Linked DNA regions of Homo sapiens. The protein of the gene in region 3 purifies or fractionates together with the protein of the main gene of each other region. This does not show direct contact. Each region holds a gene or a part of one and is shown on either strand. Other genes may lie near its edges.

The links.
Region 1: the proteins of DCT (region 3) and TXNDC11 purify together in Homo sapiens (affinity purification with mass spectrometry; 2 studies listed by BioGRID and IntAct, with this or other methods). This does not show direct contact.
Region 2: the proteins of DCT (region 3) and PLXNA4 purify together in Homo sapiens (affinity purification with mass spectrometry; 2 studies listed by BioGRID and IntAct, with this or other methods). This does not show direct contact.
Region 4: the proteins of DCT (region 3) and EDEM2 purify together in Homo sapiens (affinity purification with mass spectrometry; 2 studies listed by BioGRID and IntAct, with this or other methods). This does not show direct contact.

Annotation. Positions count from the first base shown.
Region 1 is NC_000016.10:11,690,853-11,697,921, reverse strand, and holds part of TXNDC11 (thioredoxin domain-containing protein 11), read left to right. Parts: intron 1-5,839; coding exon 5,840-6,632; intron 6,633-7,069. UniProt on the Homo sapiens protein: May act as a redox regulator involved in DUOX proteins folding. The interaction with DUOX1 and DUOX2 suggest that it belongs to a multiprotein complex constituting the thyroid H(2)O(2) generating system.
Region 2 is NC_000007.14:132,573,452-132,581,045, reverse strand, and holds the start of PLXNA4 (plexin-A4 isoform 1 precursor), read left to right. Parts: upstream 1-4,575; 5' UTR 4,576-4,624; intron 4,625-7,594. UniProt on the Homo sapiens protein: Coreceptor for SEMA3A. Necessary for signaling by class 3 semaphorins and subsequent remodeling of the cytoskeleton. Plays a role in axon guidance in the developing nervous system. Class 3 semaphorins bind to a complex composed of a neuropilin and a plexin.
Region 3 is NC_000013.11:94,476,657-94,484,695, reverse strand, and holds the start of DCT (L-dopachrome tautomerase isoform 1 precursor), read left to right. Parts: upstream 1-5,013; 5' UTR 5,014-5,440; coding exon 5,441-5,735; intron 5,736-8,039. UniProt on the Homo sapiens protein: Plays a role in melanin biosynthesis. Catalyzes the conversion of L-dopachrome into 5,6-dihydroxyindole-2-carboxylic acid (DHICA).
Region 4 is NC_000020.11:35,123,305-35,130,373, reverse strand, and holds part of EDEM2 (ER degradation-enhancing alpha-mannosidase-like protein 2 isoform 1 precursor), read left to right. Parts: intron 1-3,998; coding exon 3,999-4,123; intron 4,124-6,339; coding exon 6,340-6,484; intron 6,485-7,069. Other genes in the region: MMP24-AS1-EDEM2 (ER degradation-enhancing alpha-mannosidase-like protein 2), read left to right, coding at 3,999-4,123, 6,340-6,484. UniProt on the Homo sapiens protein: Involved in the endoplasmic reticulum-associated degradation (ERAD) pathway that targets misfolded glycoproteins for degradation in an N-glycan-dependent manner.

The DNA.
Region 1 (7,069 bases), on a different chromosome or scaffold from region 3:
GCCATATTTATTGACAGCTGTTGGTGTCTGGAGTGAGTGGGAAGAGGCAGGGAAGCCACACCGTGCCCTTCTAGAGAAGGACCAAATGCCCTCTTCTGATGTGGCTGCTGTTGAGCTTCCTGTTTAGGGGGTGAAACAGGGAGTGGCAGGAACACAGGCCGAGTTTAGTGTGGCCTAGGAGATGCCATTGTCTTGGGGGTTTGGCCAGACTGCCAGCCCTGGCCATCCTCAGGACAGCAGAGGAGAGCGAGCAGCAGCAGCGATGTTGGGACACCTTGTTTCTCTGAACCTTCCCTGTCGTGCAGAAGCCAGAGTGGTTTTCAGAGGCAGCGCCATCGGAGCCTGCTGTTCCTGCCTGTCTTCGGCTTCATCTGGTGCGCCTGCTCTGGGCGTGAGTTTATTTTCCACACGGAGCATTTGGAGGCGCTCAGAGACAGCAGGCACATTTTGCAGAGCGAGCCTGGAGAGACAGCAGGCACAGTATGCAGAGCGAGCCTGGGGTGGCAAAATTGCATTTACTGAGGTTTTTATTTTTTCACTCCCTCAAGGATCCCTTAATTGGCCAAAACCAATTTCAGACAGCCAGTGTACCACTGGCCAGCTAAGCAGACCTGAGCCCCTCAGCGCTGGCCTGGCCTCCTGCCTGGAGGGACAGGGAGGCAGGACTTCTCGCCCAGGTGGATCCCTCCCTTTGCTGTGCTGGAGTCTTTTTGCTCAAGTTATGATTCCCTCTGGGGAGTATTCTGAATGAATGCTGCTCTTTGGTTTAGAGGAAGAAAGAGGAGAGAAATGAAATAGCTTTGTTTCTTCCCCTCTAATTAGGGAGGACTCAAAGTAATAAAACTATTTCTTTAGAAAATTTTCACTACATGGATATTTTGTGAACTGAGGCACCATTTCAAATGACTAGGCCTTTACTGTATCTAATATTAAGAGCCTTAAAGCTCATTGTAGGAAAGGAAGGTTTTCGGTCAAGGTGGTGTGGCTGTGGTTGTGGATTTGGAGAGTTCTCTCCTGTCTGGTTTGGGTGTGTCAGGGTCCTGGCTGGGTTGTATTTTGTGGCAGGAGCCCACAGCCTCTGCCCAGAGGGTTGTGGTTGGATTTAGGCACCTGGTGGGAAGACTCTTTCTCGCCTGTTGTTTCTGAATGAGTGTCCCCTCCAGCAGTCTGCAAATCCTCCACCTACCAACAGGCCTCCTTTTTATCATGGTTTTGCCTGTGACTCCTTTCTTTGGGGCTCCCATTGTCTCTGTGAGGTGAGTGCGTTCCCTTAACTTCAGCATGTGGGTGAGATGACCGAACACGAGGTGGCATCTCACCGTATTATGAATTACTCAGACAAGCAAAGTGCCTGTCCAGCACATTTCCCTTTTTGTTTCAGGTCAGTTTGGCAAATGTTTACTGAGCACTGTGCTGGGAAGCTCCAGGGGAGAAAGGATAGATGCGACACCATCTTGTCCTGTGGTCTTAGAGGCTTGTCCAGTACAGGGAGTGAAAGCCTGCCTATAATTCAAAGTAGAGGACGATCAGGCCCAGGGTCAGGAGGAACCAGAGGAGGGAGGGTGCCATCTCAGAAAGCGGGGTTCCGGGCAGGGGAGGAGTTAGCAGAGGCTTTGGATGGGTGAAGTATTCGAGACGGACTTGTAGGGGCAGCCAGGATCTTGATGGGTTGAGAAAAACTTACGGGAAGGAGGACCCTGAGCAGAGACATGAGGGACGGGAGTTGCTGCAGGTTTAGGTGTTAGGAAGGAGGCCGGGTTTTGTGGTCTGCAGGAAGGGCTAACTGGGGAGAGATCTTGAAAAAGCCTTTGGAGGAGAGGGCCTTGTGGACTTCTCTGAGGATTTCAAGATTAACCATAGTCATCCAAGTCTTTGTCTTCTCTTTTTTTTTTTTTTGAGTTAGGGTCTTCCTTTGTTGCCCAGGTTGGAGTACAGTGGCATGATCTCGGCTCACTGCCTCCTGAGCTCGGGTGATCCTCCCACCTCAGCCTCCCAAGTAGCTGGGACTACAGGTGCACGCCTCTACGCCTGGCTAATTTTTGTATTTTTCTGTAGAGATGGGGTTTCGCCATGTTACCCAGGCAGGTTTCAAAAGCCCTGGGCTCAAGCGATCGGTCTTCCTTGGCCTCCTAAAGTGTTGGGATTACAGGCATGAGCCACTGCACCTGGCCCATACAAGTCTTACTGACAGTGAAGAGATGCAGCCAGGGCTGTGCGTTATCATTACGAACGTTTTTCTGGCAGGAGGGTTCCAGAAAACTGCGAAGTAGTAAGAACCTGAACTTGGGTGGTAGAGGTGGAGGGTGGAAAGTAGGGTCTATGATCGGGGAAACTGTGACACAGTGACTAGAGATGAAGAAGCCTTTGGGTAAGGTGGGAAGGATGAACGCTGTACTTACGCAAGATGAGCTGTAAATTCATTAGCTTGTTGACCACGAAAGAGTTAGGTGGCTTTACTTTTTCATTACCACCTTAGGCCTAATATTGGGCAGAACTTTGAGGATGCTTGCATTGTTGAGAAGAGAGAGGTCATCTTAGAGTGAGTGGAATAGAGTTGGGGGCATACCAAGCACCAACATTCTGGACAGTTGTGCTGTGGTGCATGTAGGATGCCAGTCAGGAGTGACCATATGGTGGCCGCACCAAGCCCATAGTGGGTAGCTGCTTCTACACACATGCATACCTGCATGTGTACCCACACACACATGCAAAAGTACAGATCCTGACACTGGCGTGAGGCCACTGACACCCTGGTGTCTCTAGAGAGTTCTAGAGAGGTTATAAGACATCACAGTGTGTATTACACAACTTGTTAATCAAAGGAAATGCTTACCTCAGCCAGCAAAGAGTCTTCGTGACTTGTTTCCTATTTTAAAGGTGTTTATTTGAGGCATTCACATCGTCTGAATCTGGTAAGCAAAGGCGTGGTTAGCATGTTCAGGCTCACAGATTTCCCTGATTAAAGAAAATAGAAGGAAACATCTACTGTGCGAACAGTTATTTGCCAAGATTTCCTTAATTATTCACATGAAATAAATGACATCAAGTGATACACAGAATGTGACATGAGTTGTGTTTTCAAAACTGCCTGTTAGGTAAAAGGAATAGAAACATAAATTCCCCTTCATAGGAGAAAAATGATAATGCCTAACTCTTTAAGAGCATTGCTGGCTGGGCGCAGTGGCTCACGCCTGTAATCCCAGCACTTTGGGAGGCTGAGGAGGGTGGATCACATCACCTGAGATCAGGAATTCAAGACCAGCCTGGCCAACATAGTGAAACCTCGTCTCTACTAAAAATATAAAAATTAGCCAGGCATGGTGGTGTGCGCCTGTAGTCTCAGCTACTTGGGAGGCTGAGGCAGGAGAAACGCTTGAACCTGGGAGGCAGAGGTTGCAGTGAGTCAAGATGGTGCCACTGCCCTCTAGCCTGTGCAACTGGAGCAAAACTCCGTCTCAAAAAAAAGCATTGCTGGTCGGGCGCGGTGGCTCATGCTTACAATCCCAGTGGGATTACAGCCCTGGGAGGCCGAGGCAGGTGGATCACCTGAGGTCAGGAGTTCGAGACCAGCCTGGCCAACATGGTGAAATCTCGTCTCTCCTAAAAATGCAAAAAATTAACCAGGCGAAATAAAAATAGAAAAAATTGGCTGGGTGTCGTGATGCATGCCTGTAATCCCAGCTACCTGGGAGGCTAAGGCAGGAGAATTGCTTGAACCTGGAAGTGGGAGGTTGCAGTGAGCTGAGATCATGCCATTGTACTCCGGCCTGGGCAACAAGAGTGAAACTCTGTCTCAAAAAAAAAAAAAAAAAAAAAAAAAAAAAGCATTGCTGTAGACAGAATACTTTCTTCAATTAAAAATATTCTTTACGTGGCTGCTTTGTTTATGAGATACTGAAGCTAAAAGAGATGAAGAAAGATTTTTCAAGGAATTTTCTTCTCTATAATATAATTAATGATCTCCTACTTGGACTTCTGTAAAAGATTACAGTAAATCGTGAAGTCTTATGGAGGTTTTTGCGGGAGTGGGTGGGAGTAGTTGTCTATTACTGCGTCTTTGAATCTAAAACAGTACCAGGATGGGGCCAGAGGGCATCTGGGCTCTTCACGGATTATATAGGCTTGACCTTGTTAGTACTGCATGCTGTCAGAGCCTCATCCAAAAACCACTGAGATGTTTTTGTGCAGGGGAAATAAAATTTCAAGCACTGGCCTATCATCTAAAGTGACTTCTTTTCTTGACCCAGTAGTTTTCTGGTGGGTTATAAAGTGACTTTTTTTATGCCGAGAACTATTGAAACAATTTATTTTTGTGTACAAATATGTATGTTTTGAATTAACTATAAATATTACGTTATAAAACTTTTTTATTTTTATTTTTATAAAACTTGTGTTTTTAAATTGGAAATTACACTCATTGAATTGTTTTACACATGCAGACACACAGACACACACACACACACAGCGAAACAAAATCCTGAGTGACAGCACCCTGTAACTAACTGTGGTGAGATTTGATTCAAGTTGACAGACTCTTCTGTTTTAGAGAGTAAATGCCTTTGGATTATAACTTACATGTCTTTCTCAGGAAACCAGAATGGGAGGTGGGTAACGAAATATTCTTTTTGGAAATGGAAGAATCTTAGAATAAAATATAAATTCAAATTGCCAATACTGGCTTGACGGTAAAGTGGCAAATCTCACCAAGACAGAGGATTGTGTGCATTACCCTGAGCTGCCACTCATTCATCAGGGGTTTACTGAGCATTTGTTATGTGCCTGGCCCTGTGCTAGGCCCCGGGGATGGCAGGATAAATCCAATGTGGCTTCTGCCTGTGAGGTTCTGTAAGTTTGTGGGGAAGAGGGATGTCTCAGCAGAAGCTTGTGAGACTGTAGAAGGGGTCTCAGGGACACTGGAGGTGCAAAAACTAGCTCTTCCTGGAGTGGGAGTAGGACTAGCTTCCCTGAAGCAGCTGCCCTGGTGCTGGGCCTTGGGAACAGATGGAGGAGCCGGTGTCCCCAGCCAGGACTCCGTAAAGGTGTGGCATTGCAGGAGGGCCTGGTCTGTTCTGAAGAGGGTAGGGTGAGACTGGAAAGCCAAACGGGCCAGATTGTGTGGAGGTTTTATCTCATGGGCAGCGTACCATTTGGCCCAGGAGTGCCATGCCTGGGGTTGTATTTTTAAAAATATAGTAACCATCTCCCCCTGCACTCTCATCTACCCTGCTGCGTATTCTTGGTGATACGTTCCAAGACCCCCAATGAATGCCTGAAACCACAGATGGTACTGAACCCTGTATATACTACACACGAATTTCACTTTTCTTCACAATTTCATGGGTAGAAGATTCGTTCTTACCGAAGATCTTAACATCCTTACCTCTTTTTTTTTCCTTATTGAGACTTTTGCCGTTTCACTTAAAGGAAGCATTTTTGGCTTCTCTTTGGCATATCTGAATTGCCAGCATCACTATCCTTACACTTTGGGGGCCCTTCTAATAAATAAAGGGTTACTTGAAGACAAGCACTGTGATACTGAGACAGTTGATCTGATAACTGCGTTGGCTACTAAGTAACAGGCTGGCAGCATCCACAGCATGGACACGCTGGACAAAGGGATGGCTCGCAGTTTTTGTAATGGCAAAAATTTCATCACACTACTCAGAGCGACATGTAGTTTAAAACTTACGACTTGTTTATTTCTGGAATTTTCCATTTAGTATTTTTGAACCGGAGTTGACCATGGATAACTGAAATTACAGAAAGTGAAACGTGGCTAACGGGGTGCTAGTCCCTCAGTCATCCCCAAGCCCTTCACCAACTCTGCCCTGTATTTCAGATCACCGAAGTGGCCTTGGAGTACAACAACTGTCATGGGGACCAGGTGGTGGAGCGTCTCCTTCAGCACCTGCGGCGGGTGGATGCTCCAGTGCTGGAGTCCCTGGCCCTGGAAGTGCCGGCACAGCTGCCAGACCCGCCAACGATCACAGCGTCCCCCTGCTGCAACACTGTGGTGCTGCCCCAGTGGCACTCCTTCTCCAGGACCCACAACGTCTGTGAACTCTGTGTCAACCAGACCTCCGGGGGCATGAAGCCGAGCTCGGTCAGCGTGCCACAGTGCAGCTTTTTTGAAATGGCAGCAGCTCTGGATTCTTTCTACCTCAAGGAGCAGACCTTTTATCATGTGGCATCAGACAGCATAGAATGCAGCAATTTTTTAACTTCCTATAGCCCCTTCAGCTACTACACTGCATGTTGCAGGACCATAAGCAGGGGTGTGTCAGGCTTCATCGACTCTGAACAAGGTGTCTTTGAAGCCCCTACTGTTGCATTTTCTTCCCTTGAGAAGAAATGTGAGGTTGATGCCCCAAGCTCCGTTCCTCACATTGAGGAGAACAGGTATCTCTTTCCAGAAGTGGACATGACTAGCACAAACTTCACAGGCCTGAGCTGCAGAACCAACAAGACTCTCAACATCTACCTTTTGGATTCAAATTTGTTTTGGTTATATGCAGAGAGACTGGGTGCTCCGAGCTCCACTCAGGTGAAAGAATTTGCGGCAATTGTTGACGTGAAAGAAGAATCTCATTACATCTTGGATCCAAAGCAAGCACTGATGAAGCTCACCCTAGGTACTGCAGGCAGTTTATTTCCCCAAGCATTGTACATTTTGCTTGACTTCATATGGGTAAATTTTATTGATGGCTCTCATTACATTTAGTTGTGGGGTGATGTCACCTTCGTAGCTCATTTTAAGTCTTTAGACCACCATCAGTCATAATTTTCAAAGAAGCTAATTTTGTCTATTAAATGGAACAGAAACTTCCTCACTCTGAATTTTGGATAAGTTTGTCATTTAGCCCATGGTGGGGGTAAGAGTCCCACTTTCTAAATTGGCGATTTCTGTCACATGTCTAAGGTAGAACCAGCTGCAGGCAGTGGGGACTTGGGGACTAGAACAGGCAGGGAGGTGGAGAGCTATTCTGGTGGGATGTCCTAGGGGCTGATGAAAGTGAGCCTTGACAGCAGCTTTGTTCTAAAGGAGCTTAAAGAGAAAGCAGTGGCCGGG
Region 2 (7,594 bases), on a different chromosome or scaffold from region 3:
GGAGTGTGCTGTGGACATGTGGTGACACATGCAGAAAGCAGGGGCCAGAGGGCACCCTGGCCTCACCTGTGTCACTGCGGAAGGCTCCTCTTGCCTCCTCTGCTGAGCTGTGGGATACTGATGATATTCCTGCTGTCCTGCAGGTGGCGCCACAATTTAGGTTTTTAAGCTGCTGACTGCCTGCCTGTGGTTTTTCTATCCAGTGCAAGGTACAAGACCCAGCCATGGGGGCAGCTCTTGGGGGAAAGAAAATGTCTCTCTAGCACCACCAGGCTCTGGTGATTTATTTAACGAGCAAATCTGGCTTTTATCAACTTAAATAGCAGCACTGTTCCTAGGCTAATAAAATGGTGGTAGCTAAGTGAGGGGAAACTTAAGAGTTTCTTCTCCTCTTTCCTATTAAACTGGTCCTTTTATTCAGCTGTGGGAGATGAACCAATACTTTTTCTGTCTAAACCCAGCAATAAACCCCAACCCAAGTCCCACAGACATAGCTTCTTTAGAAAACAGGACTCTCTGAAGCAATGTGCCATTTAGCTTCTCCCTCTTGTGGCCATGGGTCCAGACAATGACATAACCAGTTTCACGACCAGGCAAGAGGTAGAGGGAGTGACTCACAGAGCCATTGTCAGTAGGGGACACCTAGATGGTCCTACTTGTGTCTCCCTTAGCCCTCACCAAGGGAGAGGGGGTAGAGGAGGTGTGAGAGCCAGAAGATCTTGTACCTAATGCAGAAACACATTTTGAACTGTGGTAAGATGCTGCTTTTGCCTGTGTATTTATTCTTGGGGTGGGGACAAGATAGCAGAAGGCCTACCCTCATTGTATCATTCTATTTGAAAAAAATAAAAAGATACATTCATCTGGAAAGCGACTCTAATTCCCTACATGTGTTTTGTACCTACCTTAGAGTTTCAAAGCACATTAATAAGATGGTATGTCCTTTGAATGTCATTGCAACTCTAAGGGGCGAATGTGTCAGGTGAGAGATGAGGTATCATTGAGAGGACGTGACCCGCTCCAAATTGTAAAGCTGGCCAATGACAGAGCCAGGAGTAGGACATGTGTTTTCTAACTTCCAATGTAGAGGCCCTACTCATCCCACCCCATTCCATTCTCCTAACTTAAGGGAGTCAATCCAATGGGTCATCACTGAAAAAAAAAAATCCTCTACTGCAGCTAATTTGACCCTTTCTACTCCTCCTTCCGATAATATGATAACTGCCCCCTTTGGTATGCCTTTTACCGTGTTATTCAGTGGAAGGCAACCGGGGAAAGGCAATTTGAGATATGGCCCCTGGCCCCATTAACAACGGGAGAGCTCGCTGGGCCCCTCACCTGCCCGTGGCTGGTCCAGCTTTTTGCTGTGTGTCTTCCCTGTCATTTGGCTCTGTTATTACTCTTCAGGCACCACATGGCATTCATTTCTTTGAATGAAAATAAATGACACCACACACTAGGCAGGAGATAAAGAATAATAAACACATTTTATTTGCCACCTCTGGAAAAAAAAAAAAAAAAAGGTCTTTGACTTCCCGTCCATCCATCAGGAAATGGGCCTGGAACTCAAGCCATATTCACACACACACGCACACACACACACACACGCACACACACACAAATACAACCGATATGAGGAGGAAAAAGACAATCAGATTGTATTAAAAATACATGCTAGAATGACTGAGAATTGAGACAGAGTTGTTTTCTCACCTTCCCCCCTTCCTTTCAGCATTTTATGACATACCCTGAAAGCTGAGTGGCCAACAGAAGTTTGAAAGGAGTCTCCCCCGCGCCTTTAATTGAACGATATTCCTTAAGTAACCCATTAGGGACTTTCATGGGGCTATCCGGGCTGTCACTTCTGGAAATGGGCCGTGATGGACCCATGCAGCAATTTTAAAAGGGACACCTAGAAGCAGTGTCAGGATCAGGTGATGCAAACCTTACATGGACCTTGGGGTGACAGGGCCTCCTTGGATTTTGTATCCTCAGTGCCCGGCTGGCCTTGTGCTAATCCCAGTCTTGCAGAGAGAGGCATTTGGCCCTGGGCTTCCTCCACCCTGGAAGGATGTTCAAGAGGCAGTAGCATTGAGTGATTTTGTTATGTGTGTCTCTGGACTTCTGAAACTAACCTGATATTGTGTGCTTTATCTAGAGTCTGGGATTCAGGGTTTCTGGGAAGAGTGGAGTCAGATCAATGTATTCATGTAAGCTTAATAAGATAACTCCTTGCTGCTTTCTGGGCCATGCAAGACTCAGCAGAGAACCAGAGACTAAAAGGGCTCCACGCTGTCTCCTGGAATATCCTTTAACCAAAGAATCAAACATGTGGTTTCCTCCTCATTCTGGCTTGGTTCATCTTCTCATTGGTGAGAGCAAAGTTTCAGCAGGGTCCTCTCTGGGTGGGCCAAGCCTGACCTATATGTGCCGCTCACCTTGGGGCTTGTTTAAGCTGTCATCTCACAGCTCCTTTCAAAGGCTCCCCAATTCACACAACTTCGATTTCTGTGAGAATATAACCCCTATAGGGAGGTATAGGCATTTAAGCCATTATCAGTCATGTCCACCTAATAAGGAGGCTCTGAGATGTTTCGATGGGAGGGACAGTAATGGGCGGGAGTTTCTGGGTGTGAGGACAGTGAAAACTAAAGAAGGGACAGGAGAGAGGAGGCCAAGAGCCATGGGCTCCTTTAGAGGGTCGTCCTTGCTGGTTGCCTATCCCAGGGAATGCTTACTGGACTCTGCTGAAGGTGCCACTTCCCTCAGACTATGGTGGGAGCGGGTATGAGGATGAGGGTGGCATGCACAGAGTTGAGTTAACAGGTGTGGGAATCCCTTCGGTTTCTCTTGGTGGGTGGGCCCATTCCTAGGGGGATCTAGGCAGAGGTTTGGGAGGTAGTGCCACCCACTCCCCATCTTCACTGCCTAAACCAGAGCTACATGGTGATTTCTTTCTTTGGGCTTCAGAAACCACCCTGATGTTGGCATGGTCTGTTCTGGATGTAGTCTAGGATCTAGGGTTTCAGAGAAGAGAGGAGCCAGGAGAGCCGCTCAGTATAAACATGAATGGAAAAGTCAGGTTACCAAGCCAGCTCTGGGGCACTGGCCACTCATGTTCTCTCGTGCGGGCCTTGTGCCCTCAGTGTCCTCGGCCTCCTTGGGTGCCATGTGGGGGTGACTTGGTGGGGTGTTGGGAGGGGTTCTGACTAGCAATGGGTGTATGCCTCAGAGTCAGTGTGCGCTTGTGTCAGCTCTGAGCACCTGAGGGTCCCTCCGACGGCCAGCGCCCAGAGCTGCAAATTCCGAGGCGGCTGAGCGCCTCCCTCTGAGCGCGCGCCGTGCGCTCCGGTCACCCATGTATGCCCCTCTCTCCGCCCCACATCGCCACCGCCAGGGTAGCTCCGTGCGGGCCGAGGGGACCCAGGGGGGTGTCGGCAAACGTTGGTGCGGAGGAGAGCCGGCAAGCCGGGCGGCGGCGGGTGGGAGCATGTAGGGAGGCGCCCCCTGCCCCCTCTGCCGGCCGCTCTCCCTCGCTCTAGATGTCAGCCGCGAGCTCCGAGCCAGCGAGAGCGAGCCAGAGAGGGAGCGGCGGCGGGCGGCGGGCGGCAGGGAGGAGAGGAGGCGAGGCGAGGGAGGGAGGAAGGGAAGCAGGGAGGGCGGGAGGGAGGAGAGGAGGACCCAGAGAGCGCCAGGCAGCTGGAGTTTTTGCAGCGCTTGGCCGGGCTTCAATGCACAGCAGCAGCGAGCCGCGGCGGCAGCAGGCAGCCCGGGAGCTCCGGCGGCGGCCGAGCCAGCGGCGGCCCCGCTCCCTGCCCCCTGCAAACTTTGCGAGCAGCCCGCCCGGGGGGCCGGGGGCGCGCCCGGGAGGCCCGGCTCGGCCCGCGGCCGAGCTCTCCGCCGCCGCAGCGCCAGCCGCCGCAGCCACCACCGCCGCAGCCCCGCGCCTCCCCGGGGAGCAGCCGGCGGCTCCCGCGGCCCCCCAGCCCCGGCCCCAGGGCACTGCCCGGCGAGTGTCTCGGCAAGGGTGGGGGCTGCCGCGGCGCGGCCGGCCGCGGGCTGCCGGGGGGCGGCCGCCGCTACCCAGAGAGGCGCGCAGAGGCGCCGAGAGCGCTCCCCGGCGGGTCCCCCGCGCACTCGCCGCGCCCGGGCAGCGGCCCGACCGGGCGAGCATGGGCGGCGCGGAGTGACGCCGCTGTGCCCGCTTGGCATCAAGGACATTCAGCCCGCGGGGGTGGGGACGAAGGGGGGCAGCCCGGCGTCGCCACCGCAGCCCCCGAGAGCCGCCGCCGCTGCTCGGGCTCCGGGGCTGGGTGGAGGAAAGGGGTGTTCGGAATCGATCCCCATTTTCCGACCTTTTTGTTGGACATTACGCCCACCTTGGACGCCGCAAGAGAAGCTGTCAAGCCCCGCAGGCTCTGATTCGGCGCCCTCCGCGTTCCTCGGCTGCTCCCGGCTTCCCTGTGCCTCGGTGGAGTATTTGCGTTCGGGGCTGGGGCTGGAGGAGGCAGCCACACGCGCGCACACGCACACGTTCAGAGGAGGGCGAGAGGCAGCGGCATAGGCTCCATCTGCAGTGTCAATGCGGCGCTCCCGCTGAAGGAGGGAAACGCGGCGCGTCCAGGTAAGGAGCCGGCCCGCCGGGGAGTGGGGCCGGGCGGGCGGCGAGGGCAGCAAGGTCGGACAGACCTGGGCCGACCCGGGAGTCCTCAGTGTCCCGGAGCCAGCCCGCGGCACACGCACACGCACACACGCAGGCACACACACAGATCCACACCGGCACACACGGCGCTCGCGCACCTGCCCACGTCCCACCTGGACGCCCGCGGAGGTGCAGCGGCCGGAGCAGGGATTTCCCGGGTGTGTTCTCCTCTCACGCTCCTGGACTCAGACTTCTCTTTCCCGGGACTTTCGGGGTGGGATTCTGTGTATTCCCGGCTCTGCCTCCCACCCGGGGAGGTTGAGGGAGCAATTTTTCAGCTCCCAGCCCCTTTCGTCCCTAGCTGGGCTTTAAAATGGGAGAAGTCCTGAGAGGTTTCCGGAGACCTACCCAGTGTCATCGCGGCCCCGTGGCCTTTGGACACCCTGGGATTTCAACGGGAGACAGACCCACAGATATTCGGACGCATATTTGGAGAGAGTGGTGGCCCAGCGCCCGGGGAGGAGGCCAGATAGGCGGTTGGGGCTGCAGTTCTGTAGGGCGGCGCATATGAAACAGACACTGCGTTTCCCCAGTAAGAGGCAGCACAAACGCCTTTCTGAAGCGTGGCACTGCTTCCCCGGGAATGCGCCGAGATTTCAGGCAGAAAGCGGCTTAAAGCATCGCCGCGTATGTTGCTTGTCTAGGGAAGGTACGGGGGTCAGATCCTCCTTAAAAGGTAAGACCTTATTCACAGCCTCAGTGCCTGCTTAGCAGCAAGCAGACAGGACTTGGAGACACAGGACTTGGGTCCCCTCTCACCTCCCTACCCTCCCTGGGCACATGGGGCTGCCTTCCCCGGTGCCTCCGGCTGGCGAACACCTGTCACATGCCTTTCGTGGTGTGTGTCTGAGAAAGAGAACTAGAAGGGGGAAGCACGAGGGATATAGTCCTCCAAAAGAGGAGGCTCCCCTCCCTCACGACCGTGGCGGCACTGCCCACCGGAGAAGGCAAGGCATTCGTGGGTCTGCCAGCGTCCCCCAGAGCCCAAGCCTGCTCCGATTGTAGAATCACTCCCCAGACGCCCGTGCTTTAAGGTCCTATTTCCCGAAAGCATTTTCATTCTTGTTCTCTCTGGCTGGAATTTCACAGGCTGCTCATTTTAACTTTTTCTGGAGGAGGTAGGAAGTGGCTGGGGTTCTAAGAGGCTTTTCCATAGTTCCCTTCTTGGGGTCTAAGAGCAACTAATTTAGGGTCTCAGTTGTCATAGGGAGAAGAACATGAGATCCAAATCAAATTCGGAATTGAATATATATGTACAAGCTCCTGTGTTTCTGGTGCTGTCACTTTGAGGTAGCTTTCTAGGCAACATGATCATATCATTTTCCCACAAAACTGAATAAGCTTGTACCCTCTGTCCAAGATCATGTGTTCAGAGTATCCCACAGACCCACCAGTGGAAAAAATATGTTAGGAGCCTTACAGAACATGATGGAAGAGGAGCAAACATTCTTTTGAACAAGGAGGCCTCAGTGCTAGGCTCAGAATTTGGGTTGTTTTTGTAAATCCTGAAGATAGGGGCTGAATGAAAGGGCTTTTTCAGCACCCTGACTCCGCTATTTCCAAACTTTTTTCAGCTCCTGCAAAGGTCTCTGGCTAGGCTGGGGAGAAGCGCAGACACCCCGGGAGGGAGATTGTATTCCCGCTGTGTGCTGTGTGAGCTGCCCTTTGATTGATTGAAAAGCATAGATGGAATAAAGCAAATCTCTCACAATGGAGAGACCCCAGTAGGGGGAAGAAACCTTATTTGCTTTTTAAGAATGGTGGGCGTGTGCACACACACACCCAATATATATACACACATGCGTTCTCAGAGTCTGGCTAAATGTGGTCAGCTCCCCGCCCCCGCCATGTGTGACAATGGGGTCCACCTCTGTCTTCCGGGCTGTGGAAGAAATGGAACATTTCTCCCCACATGCCCCTTGAGGGCGTGGACAGGCAGATCCCACCTACGCGTACAGCAGCACATGGTTTGCAAAAGAAATAATGAGCTCCAGCAACAGTGGGTGCCTCCCAGGTAAACAGTCCCTCATGGGACCTGGAAGAGGCAAAGGGATAGGGTACAGGATCTTCCTGAAATGTCTGTGTCTTCCCTGTAGACCTCCACTCCTTTCTCTGCTTTCCTCCCTACCCTCTTTCCTTTCTCATGTATTCGCAGCCTCAGGATCCATCATTTTAATGCAAAGCTAGTATCATTATGCTGGTTATAAGCTAAACATCTGGGTTCAGAAAATCTCTGCACTTTCTGCACTTAGCATTAGGTACCAATTTGGTTTCTAGGACAAGGCAGGCATTAATTAACATCTCTGTAAAGCGGAGTATACATTACGTTTTCCTGGCTCTCTTGCCCAGCCCTGGAGCATGCCACGCTGTCATTCACCCTCTCTGCCACTCTTCTGTGCCCTTCCTTTTAAGTTCTCTGAGGTCTTTCTCACTGGGAAGGGAGTCACACTAGAAAAACCCCAGCCATGAATGCTTCTTTTCAGCAGACCCTCGCTGCCTGGTAGACGGTGCTTAAGGCAGCTCTCCTGTGAGCACTAGGCATGGGTCACCTACAAGCTGCTCCTTCTTACCCAATCACGCCTCCCCGGGCTCTCATCTGTCCTCCCAGGACTTCCTCCTGGATGCCCACTGGGACACTGCAGACATTTCTGGAGGACTCCAAGGCAGTCAACTTGTTTCCTTTCTCCTTCTCTGTGCCTTCCTGTCGCCTGCTGCTGCTACTCCCTGCAGACAGGGAAATCTGCACGGCAGAGTCTGCCTACATACACTTGGCCTCGGGATCCTTTTCATCACAATGAGGGCTGCTGGGAATGAAGTGGGGGCTTTCTAGGATGGCAGCAGTCCCGAAGTGGGAGAGAGCTAAAGGGGCTGGGTCATTAACCACTCTTGATT
Region 3 (8,039 bases):
AGTGCATGTGCAGAGAGGAAAGACCATGGCATGGGGCAGCAATAGGGAAGCTCTCTGCAAGCCGAGGACAGAGGCCTTGACAGACGAATCCAACCCTGCCCATGCCTTGCTCATGAACTTTCAGCCTCTGGAACTGTGGGAAAGTACATTTCTGTTGTTTAAGCCATCTACTCTATGGCATTTTGTTATGGAAGCCAAAGCAAACTAATACAGACCTCAAAAGGCAATTCCATACGAATAGAAGAGCAGATGGGGATATGAGAGGCATCTGACTTTAAGGCAGCCTTGTGAAAGCTATATGAAAATGACATAAGGCTTTAAGTTGATTTCAAATGCAGTAAAAATAAAATACTTCTTGACTCTCCCTAAAGGGGCCATCCTCACAGAACCCCTGTCTTTGAGAGCAGCTGTCTTGCCCGCGGACTTGCTTTTTGCCAATGGGGTGGGAGCAGACGTGAGTAAGGTGGACCTCTTCCAAGTAGTGGCCCATCACTGACCTCTACTTTGACGCAAAATTAGCAGAATGAAAAGAATGAAAAGATGCTGTTTCCCCCTGGGTCCTGGAGTGAACACAGTGTACAGCACAGTCACAGCTGACATGTGGTGGATGTGCAGCTGCATAAGAAATAAACATTTCTTTTATAAGCCAAATAACATTTTGAGGTCTTAACTGCAGCGTGAGTTAGCCTGAGTGGATGTAGACAAAATTGATGAGGTGATGTGACTGTCTAGCAAAGCTTACAAGGTAATTCTTTTTCGGTTATCTTTGCTTAGATCGTAGCAGGAACATTGAATTAAGTTATGGGAAACCTGCATTCAGAGGTCAAATCGTGAACTGTGTTGTCCGTAAAAAAGACCATGCTGATGGGGAGATTTAAAACTAAGTCATATGGGCCGGGCACGGTGGCTCACACCTGTAAACTCCCAGCACTTTGGGAGGCCGAGGTGGGAGGATCACCTGAGGTCAGGAGTTTGAGACCGGCCTGGCCAACATGGTGAAACTTCGTCTCTACTGAAAATACAAAAATTAGCCAGATGTGGTGGTGGGTGCCTGTAGTCCCAGGTACTCGAGAGGCAGAGGTAGGAGAATTGCTTAAACTGGGAGGTGGAGATTGCAGTGAGCCAAGATTGCACCACTGCACTCCAGCCTGGGTTACACAGTGAGACTCTGTCTCAAAAACAAAAAACAAACTAAGTCATATGAAAGAAAATGAAAAGGAATGGAGAATATTTAGTCTGGAAAAAAAAAAAAGGGAGAAACGCCTGTGGGAAATGGACTGTACCCGGTCTATGGAGCCTGACTGGGTTACCAAAGGCTTTTGATGAAAGAATTGGGGAAGGAAATTTTTATTTAACATTTATGTTTAAATTTACATTTAAATTATACTTACTGTTAAAAACTTTTTTTTGTTTATTTATTTGAGACAGGGTCTCACTCCTTTCTGCAGGCTGGAGTGCAGTGGTGCAATCACGGCTCACTTGTAGCCTCAACCTCCTGGACTCAAGAAATCCTCCTGCCTCAGCCTCCCTACTAGATGGGACTACAGGTGCATGTCACCATGCCCAGCTAATTTTTGTATATTTAGTAGAGATGGGGTTTCACCATGTTGCCCAGGCTGATCTCAGACTCCTGGGCTCACGTGATCTGCCTGCCTTGGCCTCCCAAAATGTTGGGATTACAAGGCATGAGCCACTGTGCCAGGCCAAAAACTTATTGAAAAGGAAGAATTTCCTCACCCTTAGAACTGTTCCTGAAATGTTGTGAGAACCTCCTCACTAGTGATATTTTGTTGGAAATACTGAGGGGGGAGTTCATGGGTTGTAGTGATGTTGGGTTGGTGGTTTTCAAACATTTGCAGCAGTTTAATAAAACCTAATATGAAACCCCCAATATAATAGTGGTCATTATAAGCCTAAGTGTTTTATATATTCAAAATAAAAGCATTTAATTTGTATAAAGCCAGTCACTATAATAATGAGGCCCTTTTGATGAACATACAGTTTTGAATTGGGAATATTTATTCATCAACTATTTATCAAGTAGTCTCTATTTGCCAAATACTGTTGCACATGTTGGAAAAACACAGCAGAGTTAAGGAGCTTATAGTCCAGTAGATGAGACAGTCTTTCAGCCACCTAACCAATAAGTCAGATAACTTTAGATGGTGATAAGTGCTATGAAGAAAATAAAATAAGGTAATGTGGTAGAGAGAAGGTGGCTGGCTGTAGACGTGTTAAAATATCATGGAAGGCCTCTCTGAGAAGCTGAGGGCTCTGAGCAAGATTATTCCAGACAGAGGGAATGGCAAGACAAAGGCCAAGGTGGAAATGAATGGGGGCATGTTTGAATAATAGTGATTGCAATAGTCTGCCATCCAGAAGAAGAGATTGAGAGGCAGGCGAGGGAAAAATCATGGAGGATCTTTTAAGCTAGTTCTCAAACTATCCATGGTAAATGATTAAAAAAGAAAAATGTTCCAGCCACAGACTAACACGTGATCCAACTGCACATGACTCATTGCATTCAGCCTGTGCTCCGTGATCATCACCATGCACGTTTGGCAACCTCACAGCCGGACTCTCCCCTCTTGAATGAAACTACTGATCGTATGCCTGAATGTTATCCCAATGTCAAATTGCTATGAAAATTTCCCAGTGTTGACTCTCAATTTCTATTCTTATTGTTCTTAACTTGATGTAAACCAGGAACACACCATTCACGGATCTGTTGGCCACACTTTGAGTAGCACATGCAAAGCACCTCGGATTTTACTTGAAGTGCATTGGAAAGCACACATGGGGAGGTGGGAAAGAGAAGACTCAAAGATCACTTGTAGGGTTGTGGTGATGCTGCTCTTTGTGGAGATGGAGAAGACCAATGGAGAACACATTTGGGAGGAGAGAGCAAAAGTTCTCAACTTGGGTGAGAAATATCTAAACCTTCAAGTAGAGAGGTCCAGTAGGAAGTTAGATAATATGAGTCTGGGGCTCACAACTGAGGTCAAAGTCAGAGTTGTAATTTTGGAAAGTCATGATAGCCTGCATTTAAGGCCTCAGACTAGCTGAGTTATCTAGCAAGTGTGGAAATGAAAGAAAAGAGATCCTAGGACTTCGACCTGGGGCATTCTGACATAAGAATTATTGACTCCATCAGTTTTAACATCCAAGAAATTTTATCTTAACATTTATGGAGCCCCAAGGCTTCACAAAAACCTGGAATAAAATTCCCAAGTGTCACAATGCTGGCATGAAGTGGCAGTCAATAAATATACATGGAATGAATGAATGAGCTCCAAAATAAAGGTTTCAAAAACCCCTGAGATTTTGCGATTTTAGAACCCCAAGTTTCTTCCCACCCATGATGTGTTAGGTTGAATGGTGACTTCCCCAAAAGATATGTCCATGTCTCAGAACCTGTGAATGTGACTTTGTCTGGAAAAAAGAGTCTTCTTTGCAGATGTAATTGAGTGAAGAATCTTGAGATGAGATCATCCTGGATTATCTGAGTGGGCTCTACATCCAATAAGTGTCCTTATAAGAAACAGACATGGAGGAAAAACACAGACAGATGGGGAGAAGGCCATGGGGCTGTGGCAGACATTGGAGCTGCGGTTTCAAGCCAAGGATTGACAGCAGCTGCCAGAAGCTTGAAAAGGCAAGGAGGATTCTAGCCTAGAGTCTCCAGGGAGAGTGCAGCCGCCTGGCTGACACACGCCAGTCCTGCCAACACCTTCATTTTAGACTTCTGGCCTTCAGAACAGTGAGAAAATAGATTTCTGTTGTTTTCAGTCATCCAGTTTGTGGTCATTTGTTACAGAAGCCTCAGGAAACTATTGCACATGGTCTCTTTTAGCTGATGCTGATGCAATATTTCCTTTGGAGCTCTGCTGTATTCTGATTCAGTGATTCTCAACTCTGGCTGAGCATTAGAATTGCCTAGATGTTTTCTAACAAAGGTTGGTTGGTGTCTGGAACATCCTCAGAGATTCTGATTCAGTAGGGCTGTGGTACAGGCTGATATTGGTGTAGAGTCAGACATAAGAATTGCCATTTAATTAGTCACAACAACTTAACATCAAGGGGTGGCACAGAGGTACAGGGGGTGGGAATACCTATATAATTGTTTCACCTTAGGAATTTGCTTTGAAACATAACAATATGTGTCTTTACATTCAAGTATATTCTTAGAAACTAGCTGAAGCCGTTTCGCATCCTTGTGGCACTAAGTCCTGTTTCCACTGTGAAACAGTTACCAAGACAGTCCTGTTTCCACTGTGAAAAAATAAATGGATGTTCTGACAGGTGGCCACCATTGCTGACCTGACCATTCTCCAGAAGCACCAGGAGGCATTGCTTTCTAGACTGAAGCTCAGTCATGCTTCACTTTAGTCTAATCAAAAAGATTTGCTTGCAAGCCTTCATTCCAAATGGTTCCAGTGCCTTCCATACAATCAGATAATGACAATTGTGAGTTTCTGGTGGCATGCTACTTCATGTAATTAAAAAAAAATTGCTGCGTAGATGTGCTGAATAGGAGAAGAGTAAGTTATTATTTGGAGGGAAGAGGATTCCCAATTGTGGAACAAAGCAATTCCTTGTACCCTGGTTCTACATAAATGTTTCTTTATTTTTGAAGTTGCATGACCCCCTGTTGTGGTCTTTTTTGCACACATGTCAGAAAGCAGCCATGAGTGCATTGTAGTTGGCAATGTGAGCTTCTGTGTAAAGGGTCTTTGACGAAGAGCTCACTGCATCTACTGACTCCCCAGGATGTCTGAGGTCACAAGTTTGGCTGGAGCACATGAGCCCAGATAAAGAAGATGGTTTTGCCCTCCTGAAATAAAGCCAGAAGTGATCTCCTTTATTGTGCACTTTGGGTCATGTGCTAATGATGAGGGTTTCTGTAATACTAATCCCCCTAATGAAGGCTTCTCCCAGCCCTTACACAAGCCCCCAAGGCCCCGTGGCTTGGCAAGCCAGAGAGAATAAAAGCAGCACGGTGTTTGGCTTTTGAACTGAGTTCAAGGCAATTAAAGTCAAGAGCTAAGGAGGGAGGGAGAGGGTTTAGAAATACCAGCATAATAAGTAGTATGACTGGGTGCTCTGTAAATTAACTCAATTAGACAAAGCCTGACTTAACGGGGGAAGATGGTGAGAAGCGCTACCCTCATTAAATTTGGTTGTTAGAGGCGCTTCTAAGGAAATTAAGTCTGTTAGTTGTTTGAATCACATAAAATTGTGTGTGCACGTTCATGTACACATGTGCACACATGTAACCTCTGTGATTCTTGTGGGTATTTTTTTAAGAAGAAAGGAATAGAAAGCAAAGAAAAATAAAAAATACTGAAAAGAAAAGACTGAAAGAGTAGAAGATAAGGAGAAAAGTACGACAGAGACAAGGAAAGTAAGAGAGAGAGAGAGCTCTCCCAATTATAAAGCCATGAGCCCCCTTTGGTGGGGGTTTCTGCTCAGTTGCTTGGGCTGCAAAATCCTGCCAGGAGCCCAGGGTCAGTTCCCCCGAGTCTGCATGACGGTGGACAGCCTAGTGAACAAGGAGTGCTGCCCACGCCTGGGTGCAGAGTCGGCCAATGTCTGTGGCTCTCAGCAAGGCCGGGGGCAGTGCACAGAGGTGCGAGCCGACACAAGGCCCTGGAGTGGTCCCTACATCCTACGAAACCAGGATGACCGTGAGCTGTGGCCAAGAAAATTCTTCCACCGGACCTGCAAGTGCACAGGTGAGGCCCATGCTCCAAGCTTGGTGGGGAGGGCCAGAGCTGGGGAAAGAGCTCCTTCTAAGGAAGAGATGAGACTCTTGACAGAGACTCTTAGATTAGGCTTTGAAAGGCAAACCAATGATGGTTTTGGTCGGAAGCATATTCAATAAGGCTGATGTGCTGGTTTATTCTTCACACCCTCTAGTACATCTAGTTATGAAGACTAAATAAATATGGCGTGGGCCAAGCCTGCTTATATGAATGCATGCCAACATACTATTGGCTTGTTTGTTGGAAGGGGAATTTAAGAGCTTAAAAGCGTCAGCTTTGAAACTCGGAGCAAGTCCTTTCAAGATGGATTCGGTGCCCTCTCCTGAAATGGGTTTGCACTTGTTGAAAAGGGATGGGTGAAGCTTGGCATTCGGAAGACAGGAGTCAAAGGCAGGTGTTCTGGTCTCAGCATTTCTCATGATTTGAACAGATCTCTCTCTCTCTCTTTTTTTTGGAGATGGAGTCTCGCTTTGTCACCGTGGCTGGAGTGCAATGGTGCTATCTCAGCTCACTGCAACCTCCATCTCCCGGGTTCAAGTGATTCTCCTGCCTCAGCCTCCCAAGTAGCTGGGATTACAGGCACCCGCCATCATGCCTGGCTAATTTTTGTATTTCGAGACGGGGTTTCACCATGTTGGCCAAGCTGGTCCCGAACTCCTGACCTCAGCAGGGTGCATGTTTCTCATTAAAGCTTATGACCAGGTTGTAACTTTGACAAAATTGTCGAGACGTGGCAAGACAGAGCTTTCTCGAGGAGCTGGGGGTGGGGGGGGCGGGCGGGGGGTTGTTATTAGATAACAATGGCTTTTTGTCACTCTTCTCTGGACTTGAACCGGACATCACAAAATTTGCTCAGTGTCCTTCCTTTAGACTCTGGTCTCTCTCATTACCTGTTGCTTTGACATCTCTGTGCATTTCTCATTCCTCTAGCTCTTTGGGGCTTTTTCAAATCCTCTTCAATCTTTCCCACCTCCAGTTTCCAGCAGCCATATGCCCTTCGGGAATAAACACTCAAAGCCTGGCAGGGGGCCACTGAAATACAAAAAACACAAGTGGCAACCTCAGGAAAGCCCTTGGACACTGTTGTAGGCTGGGTGGTTGCAGAAGACTTTTTCCTTTTAAAAATACTTTTTACTTCTCTTCTCATAGGATGCTGGAACATAGGAGGATATAGGTCATTGAGCTTCATAAGGGGTTGAATAGGTATTACTAAGGGAACATACAAAGGCCTGTGATGTTGGTGTAGGAATGACATTCGATTTTTTTTTTTAATTTTAACTTTCAACTTTATTTTAGATCCTGGGGATACAAGTGCAGGTTTGTGACATAGATATATTGCACAGTGCTAGGGTTTGAGATATGATTGATCCTGTCACCCAGGTAGTGTGCGAAGCACCCAGTGGGTAGTTTTTCAACCTTTGACCCCTCCCTCCCTCCCCTCTCTAGCAGTCCCCAGTGCCTATTGTTGCCATCTTTATGTCCATGAGTGCCCAGACATTAGATTTCTTTTTTCACATTAAGAGTTCTGGCTTTAGGCCTGGTGCAGTGGCTCACGCCTGTAATCCCAGCACTTTGGAAGGCTGAAGTGGGTGGGTCACTTTGAGGTCAGGAGTTTGAGACCAGCCTGGCCAACATGGTGAAACCTTGTCTCTACTAAAAATACAAAAATTATCTGGGTGTGGTGGCAGGCACCTGTAATCCCAGCTACTCTGGGGGCTGAGACAGGAGAATCTCTTGAACCCAGGAGGCAGAGGTTGCAGTGAGCAGAAATCACACCACTGCACTCCAGCCTGGGTGACAGAGTGAGATCTGTCTCAAAAAAATAAATAAATAAATAAATAGTTCTGGCTTTATAATCATTTTGTAGTAATATTTTTAATTCTGTCATTCAGAAGAATATCTAGGTCCTGGTTTTGCCCTGGGTATTAATCATGACAAAAATTTCAATAACATATTGGATATATATTATCCAGCTTTTCTAAGTTTTTTAAGCATTTGCTTCTATAGACCTTCTCTCAAAATTATCATGGTGTTTTAGACGAATGAGGAGCAGGTTGCTGGTGTGGTTAGCGTGATTGAAAACCACACTAACACAGTAACTTCTTTGTTCAAAACCCCAAAATACTTCTAGAACAATTATTTCTATGTCAATCAATGAAAAAGTGCTGGCCAAGCGCAGTGGCTCACGCCTTTGGGAGCCAAGCACTTTGGGAGGCCAAGACGGGTCAGGAGTTCAACACCAGCCTAGCCAACATGGTGAAACCCTGTCTCTAC
Region 4 (7,069 bases), on a different chromosome or scaffold from region 3:
TTTCGGCTAGGCACAGTGGCTCATGCCTTTAATCCCAGTGCTTTGGGAAGCTGAGGCGAGAGAATTGCTTGACCCCAGAAGTTCAAGATCAGCCTGGGCAACATGGTGAGACCTCGTCTCTACAAAAAATAAAAAAAAATTTGCTGGGCATGATGGTGCGTGCCTGTAGTCCCCACTACTTGGGAGGCCAAGGTGAAGGATTGCTTGACCCTGGGAGGTCAAGGGTGCAGTGAACCGTGATCATACCACTGCATTTCAGCCTGGGTGACAGAGTAAGACCCTGTCTCAAAAATAAAAATTTTTAAAAATTTAATGAATTAAGAATTCTCATAGATGTGTATGTATAGGAAAACAGTAGTCACGCATTGCTTAATGACAGGGATATAGTCTGAGAATTGCATCGTTAGGTGATTTCATCATTGTGCAAACATCATAGGGTGTACTTAAGCAAACCTAGATGGTATAGCCAACTACACACCTAGGCTATATGGTGTAGCCTATTGCTCCTAGGCTACAAACCTGTACAGCATGTTACTCTACTGAATACTATAGACAATTGTAATAGAATGGTAAGTATGTATATAAACATAGAAAAAGTACAGTACAAATACAGTATAAAAGGGCACATGAATGAAGTTCACAGGACAGGAAGTTGCTCTGGGTGAGTCAGTGAGTGGTGAGTGAATGTCAAGGTCTAGGACATTACACTATTGTAAACTTTATAAATACTGTACACTTAGGCTATACTAAATTTATTTAAATTTTTTTTTCTTTCTCCAGTAATAAATTTTTTTTTTTTTTTTGAGATAGAGTCTTGCTCTGTTGCCCAGGCTGGAGTGCAGTGGCATGATCTTGGTTTACTGCAACCTCTGCTTCCCCAGTTCAAGTGATTCTCCTGCCTCAGCCTCCTGAGTAGCTGGGATTACAGGCGCCCACCACCATGCCTGGCTGATTTTTTTTTTCTTTAAAGACAGAGTCTCACTCTGTTGCCCAGGCTGGAGTACAGTGGTGCAATATCGGCTCGCTGCAACCTCTGCCTCCCGGGTTCTAGCAATTCTCCTTCCTCAGCCTCCCGAGTAGCTGGGATTACAGGTGCACGCTGCCATGCCCAGCTAATTTTTTGTATTTTAGTAGAGATGGGGTTTCACTGTGTTGCCCGGGCTGGTCTTGAACTCCTGAGCTCAGGCAATCCACCCGCCTCGGCCTCCCAAAGTGCTAGGATTACAGGCGTGAGCCACCGTGCCTGGCCTAATTTTTGTATTTTTAGTAGAGATGGATGGGTTTTCACCATGTTGGCCAGGCTGGTCTCAAACTCCTGATCTCAGGTGATCTCCACCCACCTTGGCCTCCCAAAGTGCTGGGATTAGAGGCGTGAGCCACCATGCCTGGCCTCCAATAATAAATTAACGTTAGCTTACTGTAACTTTTTTACTTTATGAACTTTAAAATTTTAAAAAACTTTTTGACTCATTTGTAATAATGCTTAGCTTAAAACACATTGTACAGCTATACAGAAATATTTTATTTATATCCTTATTCTCTAAGTTTTTTTCTGTTTTTAGTTTTTTATTTTGTTTTCACCTTTTAGACTTTTTTGTTAAAAACTAAGCTACAAACACACATTAGCCTAGGCCTAGGGTCAGTATCATCAATATCACTGTCTTCCACTTCCCCATGTTATCCTGCTAGAAGGTCTTTGGGGGCAGTAACACTCACAGAACTGTTGTTATCTCAGATGATTGATAACAATGCCTTCTGGAATTCCTTGAAGGACCTGCCTGAAGCTGTTTCATTTTTTTTTTTTTTTTAGACAGAGTTTTGCTTATGTTGCCCAGGCTGGAGTGCAGTGGCACCATCTCGGCTCACTGCAACCTCCGCCTCCCAGGTTCAATTCTCCTGTGATTTTCCTGTCTTAGCCTCCTGAGCAGCTGGGATTATAGGCACCCACCACTACGCCCAGCTAATTTTTGTTTTTGTTTTTATTTTTTTTGGAGACAGAGTCTTGCTCTGTTGCCCAGGCTGGAGTGCAGTGGTGTGATCTCCGCTCACTACAAACTCCACCTCCCGGATTCACGCCATTCTCCTGCCTCAGCCTCCCGAGTAGCTGGGATTACAGGCGCCCGCCACCACACCCAGCTAATTTTTTTGTATTTTTAGTAGAGATGGGGTTTCACCGTGTTAGGCAGGATGGTCTAACACTGACCTCGTGATCCGCCCACCTCGCCCTCCCAAAGTGCTGGGATTACAGGTGTGAGCCACCACGCCCAGCCGACTTTTTTTATATAAGAGGAAGGAGTTATCTAATGATAATAATATAGTAAATACATAAACGCGTAAATGGTTGTTTATTAAATATCACGTACTATACATAATTGTATGTGTTATACTTTTATGACTGGCAGCACAGTAGGTGTGTTTACACCAGTATCACCACAAACAAGTAAGTAATGCATTGCATTATAAAATTACAACAGCTGTGATATCTTTAGGCTGTGGTGATTTTTCACCTCTATTATAATTTTATAGGACCACCATCTCTACAGTTCAGTGTTGACCAACATGTTGTTATATGGCACATGACTGTATATAGAGTTTATTTAGTACTATCCATGGTTTCAGACATCCACTGAGGGTCTTGGAACGTATTCTCCTCACATAAGGGGGGACTACTTTACTCATTTATTCAACAAATATTTATTGAATACCACGGATGTACCAAGCATTGTGCCAAGCTCTGAACATGGACTGTTTCATATAATCCTTACAACTCCTGTTTGAGATTATCTTATTTATTTGCATGTATATTTGGTACTTTGTTCATTCAGAAAATGTTTATTGCTCATTGTACTAGTGTGGGGGATTCTGCAGTAGACAAAACAAAGTCCCAGGCCTCATGGATTTACAATCTAGGGGAGAGATATGAGGGATAAATTCAAGTTCCTACTAGAATGTAAGTTCTCTGAAGGCTGGATTTTGTCTTGTTTACAAACTCATAGGAGCCTGGAACCTAGTAGGTGCTTAGCGAATGTTTGTGGTATAAATAAATGACTGAAAAATTCCACAGATACCTAACATTACTGTATTAGACCATTTTCACTGCTGATAAAGACGTACTCAAGACTGGGTAATTTATAAAGAAAAAGAGGTTTAATGGACTCACAGTTCCACATGGCTGGGGAGGCCTCACAATCGTGGCGGAAGGCGAAAGGCACATCTTACATGGTGCAGGCAAGAGAGAATGAGAGCCAAGTGAAAGGGGAAACCTCTTATAAAACCATCAGATCTTGTGAGACTTATTCACTACCATGAGAACAGTATGGGGGAAACGGCCCCCATGATTCAATTATCTCCCACCAGGTCCCTTCCACAACACGTGAGAAATATGGGAGCTACAATTCAAGGTGAGATTTAGGTGGGGACACAGCCAAACCACATCAATTATTTTCTGCTTTTTTCTTTTTGAGATGGAGTTTCACTCTTGTTGCCCAGGCTGGAGTGCAATGGTGCGATCTCAGCTCACAGCAACCTCCGCCTCCTGGGTTCAAGCAATTCTCCTTCCTCAGCCTCCCAAGTAGCTGAGATTACAGGCATGCACCACCACACCTGGCTAATTTTGTATTTTTAGTAGAGACAGGGTTTCTCCGTGTTGGTCAGGCTGGTCTCGAACTCCCAATCTCAGGTGATCCGCCCACCTCGGCCTCCCAAAGTGCTGGGATTATAGATGTGAGCCACCACGCCTGGCCTCCCCATTTTATAGATCATAAGGCTGAGGCTTAAAAGGGAAAAACCCACCCCAGGTCACGGTTAGCAAGTGGTAGAGCTGGAGCTGGAATTTGAGCTGGAAGTTTGACTCCAGAATCCATGCTCTTGTCTAGCCTCCTTGCCTCATTGCATCCTGGTGCTCTTTCCAAAGTGTAAGTTCTCGCTTCCGCTGTCCAGGCCTGCCTTTTTTCTCCCTAATCACTCATATGTCCATTATCCCATCTCCCCCACTGCAGAGTATAACAAAGCCATCCGGAACTACACCCGCTTCGATGACTGGTACCTGTGGGTTCAGATGTACAAGGGGACTGTGTCCATGCCAGTCTTCCAGTCCTTGGAGGCCTACTGGCCTGGTCTTCAGGTAGGAATGATCAAAGAATGTGATCATCTTTCTATGAGTCTGGCAAAGCAAGCTCATTCTGATGTATAAGTCAAATAATGTACTTTGTTAATTGCTTGAGTACTTTTTTTGGAGGGACAGGTTGAGGATGGAAGAGAGACCTAGAGTGAATTAGATAGATTTAGAGTTCTGCCAAATTGAGTGTCAGGAACTGAGCTTCCAGTTTGCCATGGAGTGTTACAGTACTTAAAGTCGACAGTGCATTTCCAGTCTGGGCAGGAATGGCCATTGGCAACAGGTGTTTCTCCACTGGGCGTTTCTGTCCAATCTCATTCTTGACAGTGGGCCTCAGGAAGGGCAGGAAGCAGCTTGTGCCGCTGTGCCATCTCGTTGTTTTTCCATTACATGGTCTGGTAGAGTTGCAGCTGGAAGGATCTTAGAGCTTATCTAATCTACCCCACTTTGGTGTTCCAAAATAGTGCATGTACCAAAATGTTTTTATAATCTACGTTTTTAAAAGTTTTAAGAAAAAGTAGTCCCACCTGGGCAACATAGTGAGACCTCATCTCTACAAAAAATAAAAAATTAGGTCGGGCGCGGTGGCTCAGGCCTATAATCCCAGCGCTTTGGCAGGCCGAGGCAGGCGGATCACAAGGTTAGGAGATTGAGACCATCCTGGCTAACACGGTGAAACCCCATCTCTACTAAAAATACAAAAAATTAGCTGGGCGTGGTGGTGGGCGCCTGTAGTCCCAGCTACTCGGGAGGCTGAGGCAGGAGAATGGCATGAACCTGGGAGGCGGAGCTTGCAGTGAGCTGAGATTGCGCCACTGCACTCCAGCCTGGATGACAGAGCAAGACTCCGTCTCAAAAAAATAAAAATAAATAAATAAAAATAAAAATAAAAAATTAGCCTAGGGTGGTGGCACATGCCTGTAGTCCCAGCTACTCAGGAGACTGCAGTGGAAGGATTGCTTGAACCCAGAAGATCAAGGCTGCAGTGAGCCATGATCATGCCATTGCAGCCTGGGTGACAGAGTGAGACCCTGTCTCAAAAAAAAAAAAAAAAAGTGGCCACCGGGTTTCTATCCAGAATAACCAGGTAGACATTGTGTCATTTACCAAGAAGGGAAAAAGGCCAAAGTAGGGAGGCAATTTCGTGGGAAAGTAAGGGAACCAAGAATTTTGTTTAGGAAGTGCCAAGTTTGTTCTGTCCATGAGACATCCAATGAAGATGTCAGGGTCAGCTGCTTCCCTGTGAGATTACATTAATAGTAATGGCTACTTAGCAATAGTGGTAAAATTATAAATGCATATATCCTTTGACCCAGTGATCCTAATTCTGAAAATGTATCTTACACATAACATTTTACATCTATTTGATGTGACATATATACAGAATTATTTATTGCCACATTAGTTGTTGGAACCAATTCAAATAAAAATATCTGAAAGCCAAATTTCCATATCTAAAAATATGGAGATAATTAATATCCCTATTAATAAAGAACCAAAGGCTATTTTTTAGTGTGGGGAAAATAACATATACTCATGCATAAAGAAACTCTGAAAGGTTATACAAGAAACCAGTAATGTTTATCTGAGGCCAGGCAAGATGGGTGATGGTTGTAATCCCAGCACTTTGGAAGGCTGAGGTAGGAGGATCACTTGAGCCCAGGAGATTAAGACCAGCCTGGGCAACAAAGTGAGACCCCCATCTCTACAGAAAATAAAAAAATTAGCACTGGGAGGCTGAGGTGAGAGGATCTCTTGAGCCCAGGAGGTCAAGGCTGTAATGAACCGTGATTGTGCCACTGCACTCCAGCCTAGGTGACAGAGCGAGACCCTGTCTCAAAAACAAAAACAAAAATGGTTATCTTTTGGGGGTGTGGTGTGGGAGTGAGCCTTAGCACAAACTTTTCTCTATTCTTAGAATTTTTAACTGGCTGGCCGAATTCCAAAACTGTTAGCTGACATTGACTCTGAAGATTTAGGGACTTAATATACAATCTTTGTTCCTTCCAACAATGCATGAGATAGGTGGTGTATTTTACGTTTTATAGATGGGGCTCAGAGAAGTCCAGTGCCTGGCTCAGCACCACACTGAGTAACTGGCAGACTCAGGGATTGATTCAAGGCCTTTTTGGCCCCACAGATTTTACTTTGTCTTTTCTTAAGGTTGTCTGTGGGGTTTTATGCCTGGTGTCTACCTGCCTGACAGCCACTTTCTCCCACAGAGCCTCATTGGAGACATTGACAATGCCATGAGGACCTTCCTCAACTACTACACTGTATGGAAGCAGTTTGGGGGGCTCCCGGAATTCTACAACATTCCTCAGGGATACACAGTGGAGAAGCGAGAGGGCTACCCACTTCGGCCAGGTGAGCAGCATTTCTGGCTTGTCATCTGCCCACAGGCTCTGGTTGCTGAAACCCCAAATCCCCTCTACAAGGCTCCATCCTCCACAACTGCCCACAAGTTCATTTCTTTCCATCTGTTCCTTTCAGTGGCTCTGGGTGGTTTTCTTACTAGGAGTTAATTATCCCCATGTTTTCAGATATGGAAACTGAGGCCTAGTGGGATGAAATGGCTCGCCTCTGGCTCTTAAGTGCAGGAGCTAGGCCTGGAACCCAGGGCTCCTAACTAAATTGCATGCTCTTTTTTATTTTTATTTTTTTGAGATGGAGTTTCGCTATTGTTGCCCAGACTGAAGTGCAATGGTGTGATCTCGGCTCACCGCAACCTCCGCCTCCTGGGTTCAAGCGATTCTCCTGCCTCAGCCTCCCGAGTAGCTGGGATTACAGGCATGAGCCACCATGCCCAGCTAATTTTGTATTTTTAGTAGAGATGGAGTTTCTCCATGTTGGTCAGGCTGGTCTTGAACTCCCAGCCTCAGGTGATCCGCCCACCTTGGCCTCCCAAAGTGCTGGGATTACAGATGTGAGCCACTGCGACTGGCCCCATAT